Linked DNA regions of Homo sapiens. The protein of the gene in region 1 interacts with the protein of each later gene in a pairwise test. Each region holds a gene or a part of one and is shown in the gene's direction. Other genes may lie near its edges.

Region 1 (3,500 bases):
ACAAACGGGACAAAGTGCATACCCACCCCTAGGCTGCACCAACCCAGCGCTCCTGGAAAGAAATCCCGAGGCAGGGACGTAGGTCACAGTCACGCCAGCGTGCAGGGCACACGTAACCCCCGTCACGGTCACGCCGGCATGCAGGGCACACGTAACCCCCGTCACGGTCATGCCAGTCCCCCCGAAGGAAATCCCGACGCAGGGCCCACGTCACAGTCACACTGGTGTGCGGGTTCACGAGTTTTTCCTCTTCTCTGCCGTTATATTTATGTGGTTGCTTGCGGTTCTGTTTATCATACAAAGAAAACAGAAGCATGAACGTCCTGCCGTTAGCATGTCCCACATGTTCCATCCTAACCCTGCAATTCGCCTTTTCAGGGCCCTCTGAGGAGGGGGTGGGCAGGGGTGCTGGCCCACACTGAGGGTCCACTGGGACCACCCGCATCCATCCAAGGCGGAGAACGGGCACTCCCCAGGAGAGGGTGCAGTAGAGGCCCATTCCTGGGTTAGGCTGGAGGGAGCCCCTCCACCTGCGTCCTCCAGGAACTGAGTCCTGGACCCCCTGCCGGTCCAGGCCTGACCGCCGGGCTCTCCTGCAGTTTACCTGTACGGCGAGGCAGCCAGGATGGACAGTCGCCGGACCCTGCCGGCCATCCGGGCCGGGGAGTACGAGGCCCTCCCTAAGAAGGTGCCCCCACCCCGGGCGGTCGGGCCTGGGAAGGAGGTGGACCTGCCCCTTTGTCCTGGCTGGGGTGGCTGGGCCGGGCCCCTCCTTCCCGGGACCCCGGGGGGCTGTTCCCTCCCGTGGGGGATGTCTCACCCCAGAGCGAACTTGCTCACAGCTCCAGCAGGCCGACTGGGCGCCCGACTTTGGTCCCAGCTCCTTTGTCCCCAGTTGGGGGGCCACGGCCACGGGGGCGAGGAAGTTCCTCATTGCTTTTAACATCAACCTGCTCGGCACAAAGGAGCAAGCCCACCGCATCGCGCTCAACCTGCGGGAGCAGGGCCGCGGGAAGGACCAGGTGACCCCGTTCACTGACCCCATGGAGCCCCACCCAGCCCCTCGGGAAAGGGTTAGAGGCTGAGAGCCTCAGGCGGGGAGGTCGGTGGGGATGGGGCACCGGCCGGACAGGGTTCGGCCTCCCACCTGCAGACCGGCCCAGCCTCCGCGTCCACACCGTGCGGGGACCGCGCAGGTCGGCAGGTCAGGGGCGGAGTGAAGCTGGGGAGCTCTGGCCTCCTGGGGATTTTCCAGGGAACGAGGCAGGACTTCCCTTTGTTAACATGTGGCAGCATTTCCATACTGCTGGGAAACAGCGACTTCCGGAGTCCCAGGTGCCCTCAGGGGCCCCCCATATCCCTCCAGATGCCTTGGGAGCCCCGACACCCCTACAAACCTTCAGGTGCCCCCAGGCCTTTCCCTCCACGTCTGCACAGCAGTGGTCACCCGGTCTGAGCGTCACTCCGGGTATAGATACCCGGAGAAAGCGGGGGGGACCACCTGCCCATCTGTTCCCCACTCAGAGACCCCGGTCCCACAAACAGCCAAGGTCCTGGGACCCGGCTTCCCGACCTGCAGACTCAGCACAAAAGCACAGGGACCTCTAAGTCCTGCTTTAGGCCCCGGCCAAGGGCAGAGGTCAGAGTCCCCCCACGTGGACTCAGTCACCCCGACAAGTGCGGGGCTGAGGGGACTTGTCGGGAGCGGAGCAGATGGGATGGGAGAACGGCATGGGGGTGCCTGGGGCCCCACCCCTCAGCATTCCCCCAACATCTAGGACACAGCGTGGCTGGAAGGCAGGGCCTAGGCTGGGCGGGGGCCTGCCGGGGTGGGCCTCCGGTGTCTGACCCTTGGGGCCTCCGTTTCCCTGTGGCAAGCGAAGTTTCTCTGGCCCTCCCCGGCCAGCTCAGTGAGGGACGGAGGAGAACCACAGCACCCACCCAGGCACAGGCTCCTCCCCGTCCAGCTGGGGAATGCAAGTGCCAGGAGAGACTGGCAGGGCCAGGCAGGATGAGCTTCCTAGTCCAGGCTGGGGAACGCTCTTCCTTTGCAGCCAGGACGTCTGAAGAAAGTTCAGGGCATTGGCTGGTACCTGGATGAGAAGAACCTGGCTCAGGTGTCCACCAATCTTCTGGACTTTGAGGTCACGGCACTGCACACGGTCTACGAGGAGACCTGCCGAGAAGCACAGGTGAGCCCGGGAGCAGCCGCTGCTGCTGTGAGGGGCGAGCCGATCTGTCCCGTGGGCAGGGCGGGGGCCCCACATCCTCCAGCCAGGGCCATTCTCCAGCCAGCCCCCAGGGGGTGACGCTGCCTGTGCCTTGGCAGGAGCTGAGCCTCCCAGTGGTGGGCTCACAGCTGGTGGGCCTGGTGCCCCTGAAGGCTCTGCTGGATGCGGCCGCCTTCTACTGCGAGAAGGAGAACCTCTTCATCCTGGAGGAGGAGCAGCGGATCAGGCTGGTGGGCCGGGCTGCCGAGGAAGGGTCGGACAGGGGCGTGCAGGGAGGGTGGGGAGGCGGTGGCGGAGCTCACAGCCCTGGGGCGCAGCTTCCCTCCCCCTCCTCCCCCTTCATTTTATTGACTTGTGTTCAGAAGATGAGATTTCACTTTTTATTTTGGACACCTTATTGAGGTTTTTTTGTGACCTATGATATGCTCAGCTGTGCAAATTCCACGGAGAGGACACCCCACCCTTTCTGCTTGGTCTTGCCTCCTGGGCCGGCCATGCTCCCGTGGAGGGGCCTGTGCCTCCTCTCACCACCTCCATCGGGGCGTCCTGCACCCCTGGAACTGGCAGCTCATGGATGTGTGTGCCTTTAGCTATGGGACTTAGATCCCCATCCACGGAGCGGCTCCTTCAGAAAGTGATTCCTTTTGTCTTGTGGACACCTGGGCCTCAAGGCTTCTGGAGTCTGGGTTCCACCGGGGCCTCAGGTCCTGCTGGGGTGTGGCAGCGTCTGCAGAGCCGCTGTCCGCCTTGGTCTGTCCTTTCACTCGAGGTCACTGCAGAGCCGCTGTCCGCCTTGGTCTGTCCTTTCACTCAAGGTCACTTTGTTTTAGGTGTGTTTTTCGCAATAAGCACAATCCACTTAACTGGATTTTTTGGGGACGTTTTGTCTGTTTGTGTTTTTACTGATTTAGCTCTCGTGACTTGTGGATTCCGTCCTTGTTTAGTCTCGGGCATATTTTCTTCTATTAGATCGCTGACCCAGTTATTTAGTTCTCTAGCTGTAGGACCCCGTGATGCTGCAGCAGCTTTGATGTCTTCTCTGCCTCCGTCTTTACTTTCTCTTCCACTCCTTTCCTCTGGATTCACAGTGGTTTTCCAAAACCCAGCCTCAATCATTGGTGCGTTTGTGGCCTTGTCTGTTGTATTCTTGGCTGTTAACAAAATTTTTTGTGACTTTACATTTTGTATAATTTCTTACAGAGAAGATACAGGTGGCCCTCCACTCCTGCCTCCCACCCATATTTTCCAAGTGCTTGCATTTTGCCCCAT
Region 2 (3,500 bases), on another chromosome or scaffold:
TCTACTAAAAATACGAAAAAATTAGCCGGGCGTGGTGGCAGGCGCCTGTAGTCCCAGCTACTTGGGAGGCTGAGGCAGGAGAATGGCGTGAACCCGGGAGGCGGAGGTTGCAGTGAGCCAAGATTGCGCCACTGCACTCCAGCCTGGGCGACAGAGCAAGACTCCGTCTCAAAAAAAATAACAACAACAACAAAAAACCCTTCATTAGAACCCCTCCCTCCCATTTTACAACTGGGGACACTGAGGCCCAGAGAGGGGTAGTGGAAGGGCCCCTCAGGCAGAGTTCGTGGGCTTGGGGAGGAGCCTCGGCCTGGCCCTCCTGGCCGGCACTGGCCTGTGACACTCTGCCCTTCTCCCGCTCCGGGCGTTCAGAACGGGGCTGTTTACCCCAGACATGGCCTTTGAGACCATTGTGAAAAAGCAGGTGAAGAAGATCCGAGAACCGTGTCTCAAGTGTGTGGACATGGTTATCTCGGAGCTAATCAGCACCGTTAGACAGTGCACCAAGAAGGTAACCCGGAGGCCCGGGCCAGCCCCCACCGCCTCTGCCCCGCCCTGCACTGCTGCCAGGCGCTCCTTCCCCATGTCCCCCCCTGCCTCCTCGGTAGCATGTACAGACCTCAGCGGGGTGGGGAGGCAGGCCACCACTGAATAGGAGACAATGTGCCTCTGAGAGGGCCTCACCCACCCCTGGCCCCCAGGTCTGGGGACCCAGGGATTGGACATGGGTGAGACGGGGATGATGGCTGGCTGTTTACCCCAAGAGCCCACCAAGAGCTCCCCCAGCTCAGAGAATAGGGCTTGAGGGGACCCTGAGCCCCCTCCCTGTCCTCGGAGGTGTCATCTTTGGGAGCTCCAGGGAGGGGTCTGGGGAAACCTTAGCCTTGGAGACAGGTGAAATGCAGGGCCTTCTCGGGCACTGCTCGGTGGGCCTGGGTGGCCAGAGGGGGTGCAGAGGACCCAGGACTAGCAGGTGCCCTGGCTCCCCGCTGTCCTTCATCCTCCCCATACTCATCTCACCCTCACTCAGGACCCTCACACAGGATGCTCACGTAAGACCCTCACTCAGGGCCTCTCCCTCCCTTCCATCCACATCTGGCTTTCCAGGGATAGAGCCCTTCTCCCATCTGCCCCACCATCCAAGCCTCACAGAAGCACGCAGGGAGGCAGGACAGGGAGGACGGTGCCCATTTCACAGCACGAACACTGAAGCTCCAGGAGATCAAGTGGCTTGCCCAAGTCACAGTAGTCAGGAGGTGGCAGAGCTGTTACTTGAAGCCACGGCTCTGGACTCCAAGTCCAGTGCTCCTCGATTCCACCCTCCAGCCTCCCTTCCTTTCCTCTCCCCACTGCTGTCCCGGCCCCTCTCTATCACTACCTCTACTCTTTCTGTCTTTCCTCTTCTCTTTCTGTCTTTTGGTTCCACCAAACCCCTGTGGAGGAGAGGCCAGGAATGCCCCTTGAAGAGAAAGGGAGGGGCGGGACTAGAGCAGGGAGCTGGAGAGGGAGGTCAGGCTGCTATACTGCAACCCTAGGAGGCAGCCTCTGCGCCACGGTTTACGGGAATGGACCCCCCTGGAGTTGTGCAGTGCATGGCCTGGGCAGCTGGATGCGGCAACCCTAGAGATAGGGAATGGTACTGAGGTTTGGAGTCAGGATGAAGCAAATTCTGGGACACTGGGAAACGTAGAATTGAACAGGATGGGTGGATGAGGTCCTGGCCTTGTCCTGGCCTGGGTCAGCTCCTTAGGAGAACCCAAGGCTGTGGACAAAGACGGCACTGGGAGAGAGCAGGCAGCCTCAGTGAGGCCGAGGAGCAGGGGAGCATCCCTGGGAAGAGGATCTGAACTCAATAGGGGTCTTGTACGGAGCAGGGGCTTGGTCCCTCGTACCTCTGGCCATACCTATGGAGCCCAGGGGATGCTTGGCAGCACCTGGGAGGTGCCAACCCCGGGTGGCAAGGGAGGGCCGGTCCCACGCTCACATTGTCTTCTGTTCTCTCTCTCTCTTTATCTGTGTCGATGTCTCTCTCTCTTCCCCCGTGCCCGTGCCATCCTCTCCACCCCTGGATTCCTGTCTCTGCTTGGCTTTCACCCACTTCTCCTCCCCACCCACGGCTGCTCCTCCTCCTGTCCCCACCTCCTCCCCGGGTGCAGGACGGGCCTCTTCACACCTGACCTCGCTTTTGAAGCCACAGTGAAAAAGCAGGTGCAGAAGCTCAAAGAGCCCAGTATCAAGTGTGTGGATATGGTAGTCAGTGAGCTCACAGCCACCATCAGAAAGTGTAGCGAAAAGGTATGACGGCCGCCTGGGCGGGGCTGGGCCTGGCCGTCCATTCCTTGTGGCCACAGCCTCCCGTGGGCAGAAGGATCTGCTGAGCCGGCCTCACGGCTACCCGCAGGGACCCAGCCCTAGTGTTTCCTGCCAGTTTCTAACCCTGGGTACTTGCACTCATGACCCCTCCAGGCCCCCATCCCAGAAGACTTGACTCCAACCCAAGCCTCCTTGGTGGCACCTATGCTAGTGATGAAGATGATGTTAAGGAGATGGCAGCTGTTTACTGAGCACCTACTATGTGCCAAGCACACGCTAAGTGCTTGCCCTTACTATCTGACTCAGTCCTCTCAACCACCCTAAGACGTGGGTAGTGTTGTTATTCCCATTTTGCAGATGGCAAAACAGAGTCTCAGAAAAGAGAAGCAGAGTGTGATTCAGTTTTAGGAAGGACAGAGGAAGGGGTCTGAGGTCAGGGCCTCCTGGGCAGGGGGAGCTGTCCTAGTTCCTCAAAACCAATTTGCCTGAAAGCATATTGGATTACTCACTTTACAGTAATCCGTGCGTGAGAGACAGGGGCGGTCTCTTTTGAGTTGTCTGTGACTTTTTAGATGCCTTTTTCCTATTTGTCTGCTTTTGGGCATTTTGAGGATTTTTAGCCAGGTTGTCTAAAGCAGTTCTTCCCAGGGGAGTGCGAGAGAATCAGTTGCCTGCAGGAGCTTCTCCAGCAGGCTAAATCAGAGGTGCCAGGGGTGAGCCCAGCCTCACCTATATCTGAAGGACTTCCCTATGCTGGTGGGTGGAGGCACATCCACCTTAGCATTGAGTTTCAAATAAGCATCAATCATCTCCATTCCTTTTTTTTTTTTTTTTTTTTTTTGAGATGGAATCTTGCTCTGTCGCCCAGGCTGGAGTGCAGTGGCACCATCTTGGCTCACTGCAACCTCTGCCTCCTGGGTTCAAGTATTCTCCTGCCTCAGCCTCCCGGGTGGCTGGGATTACTAGCATGTACCACCACACCTGGCTAATTTTTGTATTTTTAGTAGAGATGGGGTTTTGCCACGTTGGCCAGGCTGGTCTTGAACCCCTGACCGGAGGTGATCCACCTGCCTCGGCCTCCCAAAGTGCTAGGATTACAAACATGAGCCACCGCGCATTCTTTTTTACTGAGCAGTGTGTTGTGTAATCCTTGTATGTTGCTACATAAAGATTGGTCTCATGCCTTT
Region 3 (4,184 bases), on another chromosome or scaffold:
CTGGCAGCCGAGGCAGAGAGGGAGAGGAGACAGAGAGAAAGATAGCTTATGCCATTATTTCTGCATATCAGAGACTTTTAGTACTTTCACTAATTGACTACTGCTAGCTAGAAGGCAGAGCCAGGTGTACAGGATGACTAGGCATAATAAAGGCAGACTAGGAGCGGGACCACTGAAGCACAGCATCACAGGGAGATGGTTAGGCCTCCGGATAACTGCAGGCAAGCCTGACTCATGTCAGGCCCTCCACAAGAGGTGGAGGAGCGGAGTCTTCTCTAAACTCCCCCGGGGAAAAGGAGCCTCCCTTTCCCGGTCTGCTAAGTAGCAGGTGTTGTTCCTTGACACTTTTCACTACCGCTAGACCACGGCCCACCTGGCAACGGGCATCTTCCCAGACGCTGGCGTCACCGCTAGACCAAGGAGCCCTTCTGGTGGCCCTGTCTGGGCATAACAGAAGGCTCGCACTCTTGTCTTCTGGTCACCCCTCACTGTGTCCCCTTAGCTCCTATCTCTGTATGGCCTGGTTTTTCCTAGGTTATGATTATAGAGTGAGGATTATTATAATACTGGAATAAAGAGTAATTGCTACCAACTAATGATTATTGATATTCATATATAATCATATCTAAGATCTATATCTGGTATAACTATTCTTGTTTTATATTTTATTATACTGGAACAGCTCGTGTCCTCGGTCTCTTGCCTCAGCGCCTGGGTGGCTTGCCGCCCACACCAGCCACCAGAAGCTCCCCAGCCCCGGCCCAGCAGCTGGTCTGGGGAGCGGGGAGAGGGCAGTCTGGGCTCGCGGTTCCGGCTGGGGGCTGGGCACCCCGGGGCGACCACGGCAGGCCCAGATGGGGACTCCGGTTCCAACTCTCCTGGCCCAGAGGCTCTAGGGTGGTCTTGTCTGTCTCACTCCGGGGGCAGAGAGGACGCAGACAGACCCCAACACCACTGCTCGGCCGCGATGGTGCCTTAGACCCAGGTCCTGTGGGCTCTGGCCCGAGACCCCTCCCTCTGGGAAGGCCGGTGACCGGGACAGTCCACCTCGCAGGCGCGCCGGCGCGGAGCCCGGACCTCAGCCCGCAATGACTCAGCAAGGGCCGGTGGGATTCTACATGGTCCTGCGATATCCAGGCGACGGAGTCTCGCCTCTAAAGTGGCCCGGGGAGCAGGAAGGTATGAGCCTCAGCTGAGCGAAACCCTCCTTGCAGCCACCACGGAGGGACGGGGCGCGTCTCCTTCTGAATGACGCAAGGGGCGGGGCGCGTGGTGGGGCGGGGAAGGCGCGAGGCGCGCCGCGATCGGGGACTGTCCTAAGACGGGCGGGGCGCGCTGCGCTAGGGACTGTCATAAAAGGGGCGGGACGCGCCGCGGTCGGGATGACGTGAGCTGGGGGCGCTCGTCGCTGCAGCCGGCGGCTAGCGGGCGTCCGCGCCATGGAGCGCTACGCGGGCGCCTTGGAGGAGGTGGCGGACGGTGCCCGGCAGCAGGAGCGACACTACCAGCTGCTGTCGGCGTTACAGAGCCTGGTGAAGGAGTTGCCCAGGTACGCGGGCGGGGCGGGCGGCGGCCTGCCGAGGCCGCATCGTGTCCCGCCGGGGCTCACCGCGCTCCTCTACCCCGCAGCTCATTCCAGCAGCGCTTGTCCTACACCACGCTGAGCGACCTGGCCCTGGCGCTTCTCGACGGCACCGTGTTCGAAATCGTGCAGGGGCTACTGGAGATCCAGCACCTCACCGAAAAGAGCCTGTACAACCAGCGCCTGCGCCTACAGAACGAGCATCGAGGTGCGCGGGGGCAGCGGGAGGAGGTGCCGCCTCCTCGGGGTCGGCGCCTCCCGGCAGCTCTTGGTATCTGTGCAGCTCGGCTCCTTCCTTGGGAGTGTTCGGAAGAGGTCCCTAAGATTAACAAAATCAAGGGCGCAGAGACTGAGACAGCGCCTTTTTGGTGACCAATGTGTCCAACGAGTTTTGTTTTCAGTTGCGCAGCACCCACCTTCTTAGCAGAAACTCCCTGTTCGGGCTTCCCTGTGCCCCACCCCCTTCCAGGCCTGATGGCCCTAGGCCTCCGTGCTTGGTTGGCCGGCAGGCTGACTCTGGTGGTAGATCTGACTGCGTTGCCCTCCGGTAATTGGAGTTCTGTTGACAGGTGAGCAGCGCCCTTGGGTAGTTGGAGGTCTGTTGACAGCTGTGCGCGCCCTTCAGGGTCAGTTCCCTCTCAGGCCTGCAGGGCCTCATTCTAGTTGCACATCAAATTCCTAAGCACTGTCTCCTGTGGCGCCCTCCCAAACCAGAAGAGCTTCCCACTTGAGCCGCATGCTTCCTGGGCTTCGGAGCCCTTTCCTGCAAATTATATAGGGCAGGTCCCCCTGCACCATCAGATTTCCACCTTTGCTGTTTTATTTTTCCCAAACTTCTTATTTTAAAAGTTCAAACATTTGGAAAAACTGAAAAGACAGTGTAGTGCATACGCTTGTGCTCTCCACCGAAAGTTCAGTAGTTAACATTTTGCTCTAGTTCTTGACATCCCAAAATACATACATGTGACAGCATAGAATTCACCAAGAGTCTTCAGCATTCCTGGAGACCAGGATTTTCAACCCAGCCATGCTGACATTTGTGGCTGGGTAAGTCTTTATGGTGAGATGCTGTCTTGCGCATTGCAGGATGGCAGGGGTACCCTCCCTAGTCGTGAAAACCAAGAATGCCTCCAGACAACCTGGGTGGTGGGGTCAACCTTGGCCTTGGATTGGGAGCAAGTGCTCTAGAACAAGAGCGGTCTCCTACACAGCTGCAGAGGGTAGCCCCCTGAGAAATTAACTGTTCCAGGTGTCTCCTGACTTTCAGTGCATGGCCACATCATGGTACCTAACTTGTGGCAAATTGTTGCTTTATAAGTAAGGATCCAGTCCAAGTTCATGTACTACAATTGGTTACTTTGGTCTCTTTGCTTCTGGAACAGTCCCCAACATTTATTGTGGCATTGACTTTTTATAGAGTCTAATTCTATAATTAGAATGCCCTGCTCTGGATCTATCAGAGGAAATGCTTCCTCGTGCATTTAACCTGCTTCTCCACTCTCTGGGTTTACTGTACACTGGACTCCTGGTAGGAGCCTGATTAGAGGCAGGTTTAATGTGGCAAAAATTCCTCCTAGCGGGGCAAGGCCCCCTTCCCCAGAAGGCAGGCAGTGTCCATCTGCTCCAGGATTGGTGTGTTTCTATCAAGAATGGATGTTGGATTTTGGCAGTTTCCTTTTTGGCAGCTCTTGAGATGATCACGTGGTGAATCATTTTCTATTACTACAGTGAATTACAGTCACTTGAATTCCATCCTACTGGGTCGTGCTGTAGTATCCTTTTTATGTATGCTGGATTTGATTTGCTAAAATCTTGTTAAGAATTTTTTTGTCTATGTTCATGATAAACTGTGGTCTATAGTTTTCATGTAATACCTGGTTTGGGTATCAGGGTTTTTGCCAGCCTTATAGGATGAGTTTCGAAGTGTTCTCTCCTCTTCAGTTTTCCAGAAGAGTTTGTGTAGAATTGGCATTACTTCTTCCCCTAAATGTCTGGGTGACTGTCTTTTTAAAAATTTTATTGAGCTGTAAGATGCATGCAGTTTACTAATCCCAAGTGCATGGCTCATTATTCCTTAATGCTCAGACTGTGCCATGTGTGGCCAGTTGGGGGCGCTCCAGGCACCTTTAGATGCCGCCCCATCATTCTGTGAGCACTTTCTTGCTTTCTGGTTCAGGTATGTGTTCAGGCTCATCTTTTCTTGTTTTCTCCGTGTCTCAGTCCTGGAATCGGCCATTTTTCCACAGAGTTGTAGTTCTTTCTAGCAGGATGGGGAGTTTCAGTAACTGCCTGGGCCCAATGCTGTTTGTGCTTCAGAAGGTTTGGGCCAGGTCCTGGTTCCACCAGCAGCAGGCATGCCTGCGTTGACTTTCTGCTTCTCCTGCTGATTTGGCAGGGGTGACTGGCTGCTCCTGCCTCCTTTGTGTTCCCGGTCGTGTCTAAGGCCAGGCCCCTTCTGCCCAGGCAGCCGGCGTGGCTCTCTTCTTGCCTTTTGGTTGCATATCTAGTGGAATCTCGTAGTGGACCTGGCACTTGTAGCAATGTTTGATCAGTAGAGTGAAGATGATGACATTTCCCTGCTTCCCTGTGTTATGGAGCTGTC
Region 4 (3,500 bases), on another chromosome or scaffold:
CCACCACACCCAGCCAATTTTTGTATTTTTAGTAGAGACGGGGTTTCATTATTCTCCTGCCTCGGCCTCCCAAAGTGCCGGGATTACCAGCGTGAGTCACCATACCTGGCCCAAAACTTTTTTTTTTTTTTTTTTTGACAGAGTTTCACTCTTGTTGTCCAGGCTGGAGTGCAATGGCACGATCTCGGCTCACCGCAACCTCCGCCTGCCGCGTTCAAGCAATTCTCCTGCGTCAGCCTCCCAAGTAGCTGGGATTACAGGGATGTGCCACCACGCCCTGCTAGTTTTGTATTTTTACTAGAGACGGTTTCTCCATGTTGGTCAGGCTGGTTGCGAATTCCTGACCTCAGGTGATCCGCCCACCTTGGCCTCCCAAAGTGTTGGGATTACAGGCATGAGCCACTGCGCCTGGCCCCAAAATATTTTTTTAAGAAAATTGTCCCAGCCTGCAGTCTTAGCTACTACGGAGGCTAAGGTGTAAGGATCACTTGAGCACAGCGGTTCAAGGCTGCCCCTGATCTGTGATCACGCCACTGCACTCCAACCTGGGCAACAGAGTGAAGACACTGTCTGTCTCAAAGAAAAAGCCATTCTTAGCTCACAAGTCCATATAAAAACAGGCCATGGGTCAGATTTGGCCTGAGGGCCATAGTTTGCTAACCCTTCCTCTACTTTGATGAGTAATTAGGATACAGGAACATGGGAACGTAGGAACTCTCTTCCCTATAGCCACAGATGTGATGACATGTCCTTGTTTACCTATGTGTGTGGTGATACCGTGGTGGGTATATGCTGCCAAACACCAACCAGATTAGGTTAGGATAAAGGGGAAGTAGCATTTCCTTGCCTCTTGTGTCTAAAGGGACTCATCTTGACAGGAAAATAAATTGGCTTACCTGTGGAAGGGATCCTAGGCATCCTTGGTAAGTTCTGAGTGAGTGACCTGACTTGCCTGTGTAGGATGTTCTCAAGTCCTTGGTCTAACCCACGGTTTGGCAAATTACAACCCACATGCTGCCTGTTTTTGTATAACCATGGCTACCTGCTAGCTAAGAATAGTTTTCATATTTTTAAATTTTTTTTTAATATAGAATATTTTCTGACATGAAAATTATGAGATTCCCATTTCAGTGTTTGTAAAGTTTTACTGAAAGACAGCCACACCCATTTCCTTACTCTTGTCTAAGGCTGCCTTCACACTGCCTCAGCAGGGTTGAGCTGTGTTAACAGAGCATGGCCACAAAGCCTCAAACACTATTTGGCCCTTCCCAGAACAAGTTTGCTGACTCCTTGTCTAACTCAGTCTTTTCTTAACTGGAAGAGGATGGTCTGTGTTATATTTCTTCTTCTCCATGATTATACTTGCCCTGGGGACCCTAGGGGATGTGGAAGATGGGAAATTCATTTAGGACTGTGGTAATGAAGCTTCTGTACTTTCAGAGATAGGATGACAGAGGATAGGGGCACACATCTTAGTGACATATTTTACATCTGGAATAGTCAAGAAGTGGAGAAGTAAATTCATAGAGGTTCCAAATAGCACTCTCTGACATAGTGCCAGATGCGGTCCACTCAGAAGATCCTGGGAACAAGCCAAGAAACTGGTGTTAAGGGCCGCATTTACTTAAATGTACCACAAAGGTCATTCTATCTTTGAAGAAAGAAGGTAAAAGAGGAAAGATATGTTTAATTCTCCACTTTTTTTTTTTTTTTTTTTTTTTTACCTTTCCCCTCCTCCCTCCTGCAGTCTAGCCACCCTATGAAAATTATCTAATAGGCAGAGTGGTACCTTAATCCAAGAAAGATTTGGAGCCACTTGCAGTAACTTTTTCTTTTCCCAGATAAAGTTCTAATACTCAAAAAAGAAGAGTTGATTTAAGTCCCATATCCTTCAGGAATGAGGTATAGGATATAAATAAATTCAAAGTACCACATTCTAAGATATTTCACTAAACATTGGAATGAATTTTTCCCCTTTATGTACTTTAAAATATAGAAAATATGCAGTTATGACTAGAAATAGCTGTAATATTGTACCTGCAGAGTTGAGTATCTCACTAGTATAATTTATAATTATAACCTATTCTGATTTCTTTTCAAATATTAGGTGTCCTAGTTGCCTATGAAGGTTTGCCACTTCATCTTGCACTGTTCCCCAAACTTTGGACTGAGCTATGCCAGACTCAGGTAAAGAAAATGAGTTTTAGATGATTGGTCTTTAATCTTATCTGACCAAGTGGTCAATAATTTTAGGAACAGTGGGTTGAAGACTTGCTGAAAAGTGGGGACATTTTAGAATCTTGATAGGTAACATATGAATGAATGAAAATACTAGCTATTACATATTAGGCATCTAGTTTCCCTTTGATTTTTTTAACTTAAGTAGATTTCTATCATAGAGGATATTTTAAATAAGCTGGTTATAATTGAATTTCTCATTTATAGATGTATATCAACAGTTGTGGGGAAAATCCAAAACAGGGAGATAGTGGGGGAAAAGGCACTTGCCACTTCTTCCTCTCCTTCACCTCCCTGTCTCTACCTCTTTTCCACCATTCCAAAACCTCTAGCAGAAACCCTGTCAGCAGTCTGTCCTTTAGCTTTTCATAATCTGTAGTTTTTCAGGGGTCTGATGCACTTGTTTTCTTACAGCGATCTCCTTGAAAACAGGAAAGATTACTGTTCCTACCTTAAGTGTCTAAGAGCCAACTCCTTAAAATTAAGTGGCTGCATAAATAATGCTTGTTAAGTTACAAAGGCAGAATTGGGAAGAGGAGGAGGTACTAATGTTTGGCTCATTCCTTGGATCAGGCATAAAGGATCCCCACTACCTTTCAGTCCCTGAAAAAACTGTTGATTGTACTGCCTGGTTGCATCTGCTCTACCCCATTGGAAGAGATGAATTTATTCACCTTCCTTAGGTGCAACCCTTGACCCACATCATGCTTTCCTGAAGTATTTTGAGTCTGGTTCAGCCTCCTACCAGGCTGTAGTGTGCTCTGGATTCTCCTAGATGTTTGCCATCCTGTACTCTACTGGTGGTTTCTCTACTTTTCCAAAACAGAACTCAAGTGTAGAGACCTTATCAGAGTCATCTCCATCCCCTGAAGAAATGCCACGTTGTTCTCTACAGTAGAAATCTTTCAGAGGCTAGTATACACTGATCTTAGCTCACTTGACTTAGCATACAGTAGGCATTCAGAAAATGACTTTTATCAGTTGATTTTTGAGCTGAGTGTTCTGTTCAGTCAATTGGAGATCTCGTTTTCCCTCTCCACTGCTACTGCTGTTCTTTTTCATTCTTCCTGATTTGGGTAGTTTCTTGGTTTCTGTACTCTCCCACTACCTATTGCTCCCTATTGCTTTCTCTACTTCTGCATCGCAGGACTCCCTTCGCTTGACTTCTTTCACAGACAGAACTCACTGTGCCCCCAAATTTCCCTTAAAACAAAGCCTAACCATATAAGGCCTCCAAAGCTTCCAGTGCTATAGAAGCAGCC
Region 5 (3,500 bases), on another chromosome or scaffold:
GGTAAGTGGTTATGAATAGCGAAAATATGTGAATGTCCTTGGCACTTTGAATCAATAAATGCCTTCTGTTTTGTGTGTATGTACAGAATACTGGGAAAAATTTTGTCATTAAGTTTTACTTTAACTTCTTTTCCCCTAAGATTGAATAGCCATAGTCTTTCAGATTTTAGCTGCCCAGATAACTGGAACATAGATAATTTTTTCCAAGTAGGAAGTGCGTGCCTTTATTGTCTAATAGATCCATGGTCTTTGATGACAAAGGACTTTATGAGATTTGCTAGTTTTTCCCTCAACAAAGAGTGAAATCAAAAATCTCACTACCTTTTGCTTTTAACCCCCTCCCACCCCCGCCCCCTGCCCCATTCCCTGTGTGGTGAATAGCCTGAGAATAGGGACAGTGCCCAAGAGTTCACCCACTTTCAGAGCCAGAGGGCTCCTGTGACCCACGTCGCTCTCCTTGACATCATTTCCAAAAAACAAATCTCGGGGAGCCTTTCCTGGCAGCAGCCCACAGTGGGAGTGGAAGGGCCTTGGAAGTGTTAATTCTGTAAGTACTTCTACTGGTTTTATGTGTCACTTCTAGATCTTTGTTGGTAGAACCATGAAGGATTTAAGGTGCCAATTTGTTGTGACAATAACTGGTGTAAAAGTGGGCTTCTCACGGTCACTCAGGAGAAGGGACATGGTCCCTTCAGTTGGTTACTTCTGATTCCAGGCTGGCTCTGCATTCTTTTGTGTATCTTCAGCCTGGGCAAACAAAAAGCTCTTCCTAGGTTAGCAAAGCAAATGGGGCGGGAATCAGGACTCTGGCATGGCCCTTACAGGCAGGCAGTAATGAGCCAGGGCCGATTCGGGATGGAAGCCAGCAAAAGTGGGTCTGGGCCTGGCGTTTGGCTGACCCCGGTAAGAGAGCTCCTTTCTCAGGTCTGTCAGCGGCCAGCAGCCTTTGTGCGGCTCTCTAGAGTTCAGATCCAAGCAGACATGTTGGGTCTCAAAATCAAGTCCTGTGAAGTGTTCTTGGTGTGAATGAAAGGTTCTTTAGAGAACTAGAGGCTATAGAAAAAGAGGTGAAGGTGACTCAAACTTGAAGGAAACATTGAAAGGGCATGATTGTTGCCTTAGCCCTACAGTGAGCAAGTTATTTATGCCTTTTTGCATTCCCTTCGATGCACCCACAAAAAGGGGGAGGTAATAAATAAGTAGTTTTTTTTTTTTTTTTTTAATAAAAAGAACTAAGAGAGTAAGAAGGATTGCCAAATGGAGTAAAAGTCAATCATGATTAACATGGTATAGCTGACACAGGTATTTGGAAGAGAAAAAGAGTCATGTCTTGGAGTGGTTAGGGTAGAATTTTAAACACGGGCCTTTTGTGGGGAAAGCCAGTTATGAGTGCCAAACAGTTTGAAAACTGGCTTATAGAGCTTTTGTACTTCTGGAATGAATGTTAGATATAGTTTGGAGCAGAGCTCAGGTACAAGCTCCATCTAATGGACACCTGTCATGACGGGTCAGAGTTGTGAAGTTAAATATTTGGTTGTCTGTCACCATGGAAACGTGTGTAGTATGCATAATATGACATAAACACAACCCTTTCCAGGCGGAAAAAAGGCTGATGTCTAGGATCACAATCTCTGAATCCTTCTGATCTTTCTGTAGCTGTCTCTCTGGATCAATGAGAAGATGCTCACAGCCCAGGACATGTCTTACGATGAAGCCAGAAATCTGCACAGTAAATGGTTGAAGCATCAAGCATTTATGGCAGAACTTGCATCCAACAAAGAATGGCTTGACAAAATCGAGAAGGTGAGTTAAAACATTTGATGTGGCCATGGTGAGAAAACAAACAGGGTAGTAATAAACTCCTTTTTATTTAGCACATTTTCCAGCATATCTGATCTTATCTGTACATTTACGTAAGTTACACAGCCAGTAATAGCTCCCTTTGCACGTACGGGTTCCTGACTTCAACCCATCAAAAGGGAAAAAAGCAGAAACCCAACCAGTTAGTAGAAAATGCTTGATTTATCGTAGAACGAATACTAGGCATTTAGTTTCTGTTGTGCCTCTCATCTGCTGTTGCTGATGGACTGTGAGCTCTCATGCAGGGATTCCACTGTCTTGATCATATTATTTGTGTTGTACTGTGACAGATTGCACATAATTTTAAATATATACATATTTTTTAAAATTGCTTTTTCCTATGAGACTACTGTATACCAGGCGCTATAATAATTACTATGATGTGTTATTCTTGCACAGAGAGATTCTGGGCAGCATAACTGAAGATGAATATGGAGTCCCCCCCTTCCCCCCGACTTCTCTCCTTTTAGACTTTTTATAGTGTTTCAGATTCTTCACGGTTAAAATAATGTGTTGGCAGGGCACGGTGGCTCATGCCTGTAATCCCAGCACTTTGGGAGGCCAAGGCAGATGGATCACTGGAGGCCAGGAGTTTCAGACCAGCTTGGCCAACATGGTGAAACCCCATCTCTATGAAGCATACAAAAATAGCCAGGCCTGGTGGTATGTGCCTGTAATCGCAGCTATTGGGGAGGCTGAGGCACGAGCCCAGGAGGCAGAGGTTGCAGTGAGCTGAGATCACGCCACTGTACTTCAGCCTGGGTGATAGAACGAGACTCTGTCTCAATATAATAACAATAATAATAATAATAATAATAATAATAATGTGTTGTATATCATCTTTGGTCATGGAATGGAGGAGATAAAGTCACGTTATTAGCATTCAGTATTCCGTTGCCCCAGTTGAGACTATTTCAGCATGTAACATTTATTGCTTAATTCCCATGAAACCCTTGTAATGTACACAACCTAGGGGTCGTTGTTGATTTTATTGAGCAGTAACTTCATGTGGAAAGACTGTGTGTATTGAGTGAATGGTTAAATCACAGATCAAATGTCCTAGGTTTGTTTTTCACAGTGACATTTTTTCTGTAGCAAACTTGTTTATTTACAACCATGTTGGTTTTGTTTTCCAGGAAGGAATGCAGCTCATTTCAGAAAAGCCTGAGACGGAAGCTGTGGTGAAGGAGAAACTCACTGGTTTACATAAAATGTGGGAAGTCCTTGAATCCACTACCCAGACAAAGGCCCAGCGGCTCTTTGATGCAAACAAGGCCGAACTTTTCACCCAGAGCTGTGCAGATCTAGACAAATGGCTGCACGGCCTGGAGAGTCAGATTCAGTCTGATGACTATGGCAAAGACCTGACCAGTGTCAATATCCTGCTGAAAAAGCAACAGGCAAGTGGACAAGCCATCATGGACTTGGGTGTATTTCTGTTTTACAGCCATAGTCCTTAGAGTCTTTTCTCACCCACTGCATTATCAGGAGTCCACCTTCCATGGGAAGGCATTTTTAACCCAAAATATTACTTGCTCTAACAGCATCGTAGAACATTTCCAGAATAGAAAGACACTTGTCCAAACTAGAAAGACACAGTATTAGGAGTATTGGGTGTTGGCTGTCTGTGTATGGGATTG
Region 6 (3,500 bases), on another chromosome or scaffold:
TCCTGTTGTTTTTGTAAATTGACTGATAATCTTTTAATAAGTTAACCAGAGTGGGTATTTTTGTTTATAACAAAAAATCCTGGTGAGTACATGGAATAATGTGGATGCATTAATGCAACGTAAGGACCCTTGTTTTTTTTTTTTTTTTTTTTTTTTTTGAGACAGTCTCACTTTGTCACCCAGGCTGGAGTGCAGTGGCATGATCTCAGCTCATTGCAGCCTCTGCCTCCTGGATTCATGCAATTCACCTGCCTCAGCGTCCCGAGTAGTTGGGACTACAGATGCACACCACCAAACAGGTCACCACGTCTGACTAATTTTTATATTTTTAGTAGAGACGGGACTAATTTTTATATTTTTAGTAGAGACGGAGTTTCGCCGTGTTGGCTAGGCTGGTCTTGAACTCCTGACCTCAAGTGATTCACCCGCCTTGGCTTCCCAAAGTGCCGAGATTTCTGGTGTGAGCCACCGCCCCCAGTCAACATAAGGACTCTGAGTGAAAGGGAGAATGGGAACATAGAAAATCTCAGCTGTGGTTAATTGACTTTAGATCCCTTTGGCTTGGATTAAATTTTCTTAGCCATTGTGAGGACTCCTGATACTTAAGCTGTTTATAGGTTCTAGACTTAGAAAAACTATAAAAACTTAGTTTGGCTATTCAGCAAAGTTAGTATATATCACCAGAAAGCTTACTGCTAATATCTAATCAACAAGCAGCATGGTAATTACAGTTATCATTAAGTGTGTCAAATTATCTGGCCTTTAATTTGATTGTCAACTTAATTGAAATTATTAAAACAGTTTTGGATAGAGATGGTTAAGGCTTGAATTTGGGAGGCCTAGTTGTAAAAAGTTTTTTTTTTTTTTTTTTTTTTTGAGATAGAGTTTTGCTCTTGTTGCCGAGGCTGGAGTGCAATGGCGCGATCTTGGCTCACCACAACCTCGGCCTCCCAGGTTCAAGTGATTCTCCTGCCTCAGCTTCTCAAGTAGCTGGGATTACAGGCATGCGCCACCACGCTCGGCTAATTTTTTATTTTTGGTAGAGATGGGGGTTTCTCCATGTTGGTCAGGCTGGTCTCGAACTCCCAACCTCAGGTGATCCGCTCACCTGGGCCTCCCACAGTGCTGGGATTGCAGGTGTGAGCCACCACGCCCAGCTGTAAGGAGCTTTTTTTGTTCCCCATGTTCATGTTGGTTCTCTCTTCTTAGTGATGCTTATTAGTTTGGTCATTTTACAACATAAAAAAAGAGAGGAAACTATTGCCCTTGACACTAATCAACAGAAAAATTAAAACTAGTATTATGTGTAAGATTAATTCACCAACAAAATCAACAGACATTTTGAGGCCCAACTGTGAACCAGGCATTGTATCAGTTTTTCAAAAAAGGGAGTTAATATCTAGAAAATTAGAAGCTTAATTTTTTTATAGCAATAGAACTGCCATATAGCCTCGTTGACTGTGTTAGAGAATATTGTCTAATTATAAAGACATTTAAGAAACATACTGACTTTGTTCTGTTTTGAAAATAAGCTATAATATCTGATGTTTCAAAGCACATTAAGGGTAGAATTATTTGTGAGAATTATTTTGTGTTTGCTTCTTTCCTGTTATATAAGTGACTTGCATGAACCTGTTTTCCCATTTCTAAACATTTTTATGTGAATGTTTAATGTTTTCTTAAGAGTGAAATGAGGAAGTTGAACTGGATTTAGCTTTCTTACCTTTTAGTATTTAATAATTGCAAATGATAGTGTATTATTTTGTTTTCTGCTCACCTTAGGAACAATACAGGTATGATTTTCCTTTTTAAATTTACAAAACTCTTAGAAGAGATCCTAAACTCAGTGTAAAACTTTGGTGTTAATATTGCAGTTCAGCTTTATAAATTTTAGAAATTTGCTTTGCATTTTCAGTAACATGTATATTACTCAAACGTTGAATATTTCATTTCCTTGAAAATATCATTAAACCAGAAATCATTTCTACATGAGCAAGACTTAATATCTTATTTAAAACTGCCTCTCACCCTTACAGGAAATCCATTTACAGAGATGATCATACCAGTTATTAATGTGCACTTAAAACATCTTTAGAGGTAGTCTCTTGACCTGCTAACAATAGAGAGCTTTAATAGCCTACTTCTTGAAAAGCCCTAGTAATTGTTTCGAATGAACTTGTCTAAAATGGTATCTGAGAAAAGTAGAATAAGATAATCAAAAGAGCCCAAGACTAGGATTTTAAAGGACTTATGTCTTGTTAAGTAGCCCCCTGACATTGAGCAAGTCATTTATCTGAATCTTAATTTCTTTTTTAGAAGAATGAGAGATTGTAACACCTGTCTTGGGCAGGAAGGGGGAGGGCAGTTATTGTGAAGATAGGAAGTGTAGGCAGAGTGGAGAGTGAGCATTCTACAGATGCTCCCTGTATTCACTACCCTTCTTGCTTTTGGCCTTATTTCTTTACTTGCAAAATGGAGCTAAAAATTCTTGTCCTCTTTGCTTCACTTTGGGATGACGGGATGACATGTCATTATTTAGGTAAAAGTGCATTATTATTGCCATAAAATTTATTAACACTGAGCTAACAGCATAATAAGCATAGTTCTTTGTATATTAAAGGTTTTAAACCCGGGGACCTATGACCTTGAATGGGGAAAAAGTTACATCTTTATTTTTACATTTTCTTGTTATGAGTATAGACAACATTAGCATTAGCAGTACAGTACCAGAGACTGTGTCGTCTATTTTTTAATTTAATTTTTATTTTTTATAGAGATGGGATCTCACTCTGTTGCCCAGGCTGGAGTGCAGTGGCACCATCACTCCTGGGTTCAAGTGACCCTTTAGAATAGCTGGGACTACAGGTGCACATCACTACACACAGCTAATTTTTTTATTTTTTGTAGATTGCCCAGACTGGTTTTGAACTCCCGGCCCCAAGCCATCTTCCTGCCTTGGTCTCCCAAAGTGTTGAGATTACAGGCATGAGCCACCATAACCAGCCCAGAGACTGTTTCTAATAGAAACGGTAGATACTTTTGGAATACATTAAAGCTGTCTCGAAATAACTTAACTGTTACTTAAAGTATTAAAAAAGCATATATATTACTCAAGGTTTGTGTTTTTTATATTTTGATAATCATATTCCAGTGTAATTGGTTTCTTTTGTAATTTTCTGTATTGTGTGCATGTATTTTATGCATTTAAAAATACTTTTCTTAGAAAGAGTTCATAGGCTTCACCAGCAGGGCCCATGCAGGAAAAATAAAATGATTAAGAACTTCTTTAGTAGATTCCATTATTGTGTTGATTGGACTGCCAGAGTTGCCTTATTCAGTTTATACTGTTCTTTGTTGTGCAGCTTTCTCCCAGTAAATTGGCAGATGAGTTCTCTTGGAATATTTTGGTTTCTGGAGAGACCACAATTATGTTCAGAGGTCATTTCTAAGTCCGAAAAGGCAGAAAAAAATTTAAAATAATTAAAATTAGGCTTAGGGAA
Region 7 (4,048 bases), on another chromosome or scaffold:
GGGGCGAGGGGGGGCATTGGTTTGAAGCCCCTTAAAACGAGGGCCCTGCAGGCGATGCCTTCTTTCCTACTCGGATTTGTAAAGCCGAGATTGCTTAGTTGGAAACCCTGTTCTCCCCTCCCAGGCGCACACAGATCCCCCTTACACGCAAGCAGCGGGCGCTTCCACGCCTCCGCGGGCCAAGGTCACCAAATGCCCTGATTCCATCCCCCACCCGCCATCAATCCTGCCGACTCTGGCCGCTCTGCCTCATTCTCTTCCAAGAAGTTTCCATTCGTTTTATTTTTTTTTCCCCAGCCCGAGGTCCTCAGTAGACTCCAGCGTGGATTTTAATTGCCTCAATCAGCAGTCATTCTCCCCAGCCGTCACTCAGAGCCTGGACGGTGGGTCCCGCGATCTAGCCCTTGGCTACGCAGGAACGGTGCGCCCCCGGGTACGGCGCGGTTCAGCAGGCAGGCGTCAGGTTCTACCAAGGCGCTGAAATGAGCCCATCAGCGGGTAGGAGCCCTTCCCCCGCCGTCCCCTCCCCAGGCTCGTGAACGGCGCCTGATGCCCGCCCGGGGCGCGAGCTCTCGAGGTCGCAGTGACCTCAGCACCTGCTTGGAGGAAAACGGCGCGGGAACCCCGCTTCCTTCCCCTCAGCTGGAGCCAGACCTCAAACAAAACCCCAATCGATGCACACAGAAAACTCCTCTGGGCCACGCTTCCCGCCTCGCCGAGGTCTCCCCAGTCTGCCCCTCGCTGACGCTGGCGCGCAGCGGCTGTGGCAGCACCCGGGACAGCGGCCGCCCGCACTTCCCGCCTCTGGCTCGCCCGAGGACGCGCTGGCACGCCTCCCACCCCCTCACTCTGACTCCAGCTGGCGTGCATGGTCTGCCTCGCATCCTCACGACTCAGCTCCCTCCCTCTCTCGTGTTTTTTTCCTCCGCCGCCCCCTCATTCATCCCCACTGGGCTCCCTTTCCCTCAAATGCTCTGGGGCTCTCCGCGCTTTCCTGAGTCCGGGCTCCGAGGACCCTTAGGTAGTCCCGGTCTCTTTTAAAGCTCCCCGGCTTCCAAAGGGTTGCCACGTCCCTAAACCCTGTCTCCAGCTCGCATACACACACGCACAGACACGCACGTTTTCTGTTCCTGCGTGACACCCGCCCTCGCCGCTCGGCCCCGCCGGTCCCCGCGCGGTGCCCTCCTCCCGCCACACGGGCACGCACGCGCGCGCAGGGCCAAGCCCGAGGCAGCTCGCCCGCAGCTCGCACTCGCAGGCGACCTGCTCCAGTCTCCAAAGCCGATGGCATCTCCGGGCTCTGGCTTTTGGTCTTTCGGGTCGGAAGATGGCTCTGGGGATTCCGAGAATCCCGGCACAGGTAGGAAGGAGAACGGGGGCCTGCGGCGGGCGAGTTTTGCGGTGGTCTGGGGTTTGCGGAACTACGGAGAAGACGAAGGAGGTTTTTCCACCTGCAACAGGAAACTTCTTCGGGCGCTTCTCCCTGCTTTTGGGCTAAGTCCTTGACGGCCCAAGAGCTCAAGACCTCTACAGCCTCTTGTACCCTGGGAAGACGCCCAAATAGTCTCAGGCCCGTTCCACAGAAGGTTGGAAGAGCCCCCCAAAGACCGCGGTGTCTCGGGGACATGGAATTCCGTGGTCCTGGGGCGCTGCTAAGATCCGGGTGTCTGGACCCTGGGGTGGGACGGAGTGACCGTGAAGATAGAAAAAAAAAATGGGAAAGGTGAGAGATTTCTTTATCTAGAAAGACAGTCTGCGAAAAAATGGATAGCTTCAGTGTTTAGGAAAACTCGTCCAAGGTAGGCAGGGAGAGGAATTTGCCTGAGCCGATTGGCACCTGGAAGGGCAGCGGTGTGGGCTTCTCCTCGGGAAACAGATAAAGGAAATGAGGGCTGGCCCGGGCCGCCAGCCTCCCGCTTGCCTTCTGCACCTGCCGGCCTCACCGAGTCCTGAGCGGCCCCCAGGAGGAAGGCGGCCCCTCCTAGGACCCCGGACTGATTGATTTTCACATAGAACGAAATTTCACACGTCCGTCTGTTGTTCTCTTTCTGCCTCGCTGTCTGCCTGCCTATTCTTCCTTGCAGCGCGAGCCTGGTGCCAAGTGGCTCAGAAGTTCACGGGCGGCATCGGAAACAAACTGTGCGGTGAGTGCCCAGGGACCGGGGCGGCCAAGGTCGGCCCGCGGGGTCCAAGCAGTCTTCTCACCTCCGCATCCCAGTCAGCGGAGTCGGGGTTTCCTGGCTGCGGGTAGGCGGGAGCGAGGGAGCCGGGCCCGGCGGAGGATTGACGAGGCCCGCGTTCGGTGTCCTTACCCAGCCCTGCTCTACGGAGACGCCGAGAAGCCGGCGGAGAGCGGCGGGAGCCAACCCCCGCGGGCCGCCGCCCGGAAGGCCGCCTGCGCCTGCGACCAGAAGCCCTGCAGCTGCTCCAAAGTGGATGTCAACTACGCGTTTCTCCATGCAACAGGTAAAGACTCAGCGGGGAGCCCCGGGGCGCCCCTGCCCCTCTCTCTGCCCCGCCCACCGCGGCCGGTGCGGGTCCGGCGCTGAGAGCCGGACAGGGGCGTCGAGGTGGCAGCGGAGGCGGGACCTGCCAGAATCTTCAGATAAAAGCGAGAAATGCGGGACCTGCCCGCTGGGTCCAAGCCCCCGAACCTGGCCTCGGAGCTCCAAGAGGGCTCTGAGGCCGTGGCGCTCTTCCCCCAGCGCGGCCCTTGGGATGGCGGGTGGCCGACGATCCAGGCGCTCGTGCGCTCACTGAATCGATGACGGCTGGCTTCCCTAGGCCGCTGGGGCCTCGGGTGGGACTCAGTTTCCAAATACCGTGCCCGAGAATTCAGAATTGCATTTTTTTTAGGTCTTTAGATCACGAGAGTGATTTGTAGCTGCAATTGCACAAGAGAACGATTCCATTCACATGAAACCCGCGCGCCGAGTTTTACCCCCGTGCACTTACACACCGTCTCCCAAATGTACGCGCGCACACACACATGCAGACACACATGCATACGCTCTCTCTCTCTCTCTCACACACACACACACACACACACACACACACACACACTGACTTTAGAAACAGCGGGCCTTCCTATCAGACCAGAGATCCTAATGCACCTGTTCCACTTTGGTTTGCCCGAAGGCATTCGAGACAAACACTTCTGACGTGAAATATTTATGTAAACATGTAAGATGGTTTACTGAGAAACACGTTTAAGACGAACTCCTGTGAACTAGATAAACGGAGGTACACGCTCTTCAAAAAAAGAAGGCAAACAATATAAGTTATGAATTGAAATGCAGTAATTAATTTGGGGAAGAGAAGAAATCATAATTTATCTCATTCATTCCCTTCACCTTTGAAAAATGTCTCCCTTTTAAAGAAAAATGTTCTGCCTTTCCAAAAGCTTTATCTAACATGAAATCTCTCAATTCAAAGAAATGTTATTGCCTCATCAAGATCTTGCCTTGAATATTTTCAAAGTAAAATTAAAATGTGGCATTTTAATTTCATTCTTTAGACCTGCTGCCGGCGTGTGATGGAGAAAGGCCCACTTTGGCGTTTCTGCAAGATGTTATGAACATTTTACTTCAGTATGTGGTGAAAAGTTTCGATAGATCAACCAAAGTGATTGATTTCCATTATCCTAATGAGCTTCTCCAAGAATATAATTGGGAATTGGCAGACCAACCACAAAATTTGGAGGAAATTTTGATGCATTGCCAAACAACTCTAAAATATGCAATTAAAACAGGTATTGTCTCATCGAAAATAATAAAGCTCTTTTTTCGTTTACAATTTTTATTTTATTTTTTTCTATAAAATGTTTTGTTTGATGGAGTTACTGATATTTTCAAAATTGCAAAGTTATTTTCATCATGTAAAAAATAGTCATTATTAGAATGATTCTAATCCAAAGCACCTTCCACTGCTATTGTTCATGCTTCTGAAGTTGATAATGTCAGAAACATGATTTAAGTGTAAATCATCAGATTTTACGTTGCATGTATTTGGACACGGAGGTTATACCACTGGTATAGAAGCAAATATT

Evidence for each region.
Region 2: the proteins of FTCD (region 1) and DNM1 interact in a two-hybrid assay, tested with the Homo sapiens proteins (one large-scale study listed by BioGRID and IntAct).
Region 3: the proteins of FTCD (region 1) and DGCR6 interact in a two-hybrid assay, tested with the Homo sapiens proteins (one large-scale study listed by BioGRID and IntAct).
Region 4: the proteins of FTCD (region 1) and USP34 interact in a two-hybrid assay, tested with the Homo sapiens proteins (one large-scale study listed by BioGRID and IntAct).
Region 5: the proteins of FTCD (region 1) and SPTBN1 interact in a two-hybrid assay, tested with the Homo sapiens proteins (one large-scale study listed by BioGRID and IntAct).
Region 6: the proteins of FTCD (region 1) and RDX interact in a two-hybrid assay, tested with the Homo sapiens proteins (one large-scale study listed by BioGRID and IntAct).
Region 7: the proteins of FTCD (region 1) and GAD2 interact in a two-hybrid assay, tested with the Homo sapiens proteins (one large-scale study listed by BioGRID and IntAct).

What each region holds. Positions count from the first base shown.
Region 1 is NC_000021.9:46,149,080-46,152,579, reverse strand, and holds part of FTCD (formimidoyltransferase-cyclodeaminase), read left to right. Parts: exon of another isoform or gene 1-286; intron 287-599; coding exon 600-688; intron 689-820; exon of another isoform or gene 821-842; coding exon 843-1,022; intron 1,023-2,054; coding exon 2,055-2,192; intron 2,193-2,329; coding exon 2,330-2,461; intron 2,462-3,500.
Region 2 is NC_000009.12:128,223,879-128,227,378, forward strand, and holds part of DNM1 (dynamin-1), read left to right. Parts: intron 1-372; coding exon 373-511; intron 512-2,156; coding exon of another isoform or gene 2,157-2,295; intron 2,296-3,500. UniProt on the Homo sapiens protein: Catalyzes the hydrolysis of GTP and utilizes this energy to mediate vesicle scission and participates in many forms of endocytosis, such as clathrin-mediated endocytosis or synaptic vesicle endocytosis as well as rapid endocytosis (RE).
Region 3 is NC_000022.11:18,904,936-18,909,119, forward strand, and holds the start of DGCR6 (protein DGCR6), read left to right. Parts: upstream 1-1,384; 5' UTR 1,385-1,439; coding exon 1,440-1,549; intron 1,550-1,629; coding exon 1,630-1,790; intron 1,791-4,184. UniProt on the Homo sapiens protein: May play a role in neural crest cell migration into the third and fourth pharyngeal pouches.
Region 4 is NC_000002.12:61,191,588-61,195,087, reverse strand, and holds part of USP34 (ubiquitin carboxyl-terminal hydrolase 34), read left to right. Parts: intron 1-2,107; coding exon 2,108-2,187; intron 2,188-3,500. UniProt on the Homo sapiens protein: Ubiquitin hydrolase that can remove conjugated ubiquitin from AXIN1 and AXIN2, thereby acting as a regulator of Wnt signaling pathway.
Region 5 is NC_000002.12:54,641,327-54,644,826, forward strand, and holds part of SPTBN1 (spectrin beta chain, non-erythrocytic 1), read left to right. Parts: intron 1-1,656; coding exon 1,657-1,803; intron 1,804-2,996; coding exon 2,997-3,260; intron 3,261-3,500. UniProt on the Homo sapiens protein: Fodrin, which seems to be involved in secretion, interacts with calmodulin in a calcium-dependent manner and is thus candidate for the calcium-dependent movement of the cytoskeleton at the membrane.
Region 6 is NC_000011.10:110,286,615-110,290,114, reverse strand, and holds part of RDX (radixin), read left to right. Parts: intron 1-2,907; exon of another isoform or gene 2,908-3,115; intron 3,116-3,500. UniProt on the Homo sapiens protein: Probably plays a crucial role in the binding of the barbed end of actin filaments to the plasma membrane.
Region 7 is NC_000010.11:26,215,526-26,219,573, forward strand, and holds the start of GAD2 (glutamate decarboxylase 2), read left to right. Parts: upstream 1-1,248; 5' UTR 1,249-1,284; coding exon 1,285-1,360; intron 1,361-2,084; coding exon 2,085-2,144; intron 2,145-2,316; coding exon 2,317-2,466; intron 2,467-3,517; coding exon 3,518-3,751; intron 3,752-4,048. UniProt on the Homo sapiens protein: Catalyzes the production of GABA.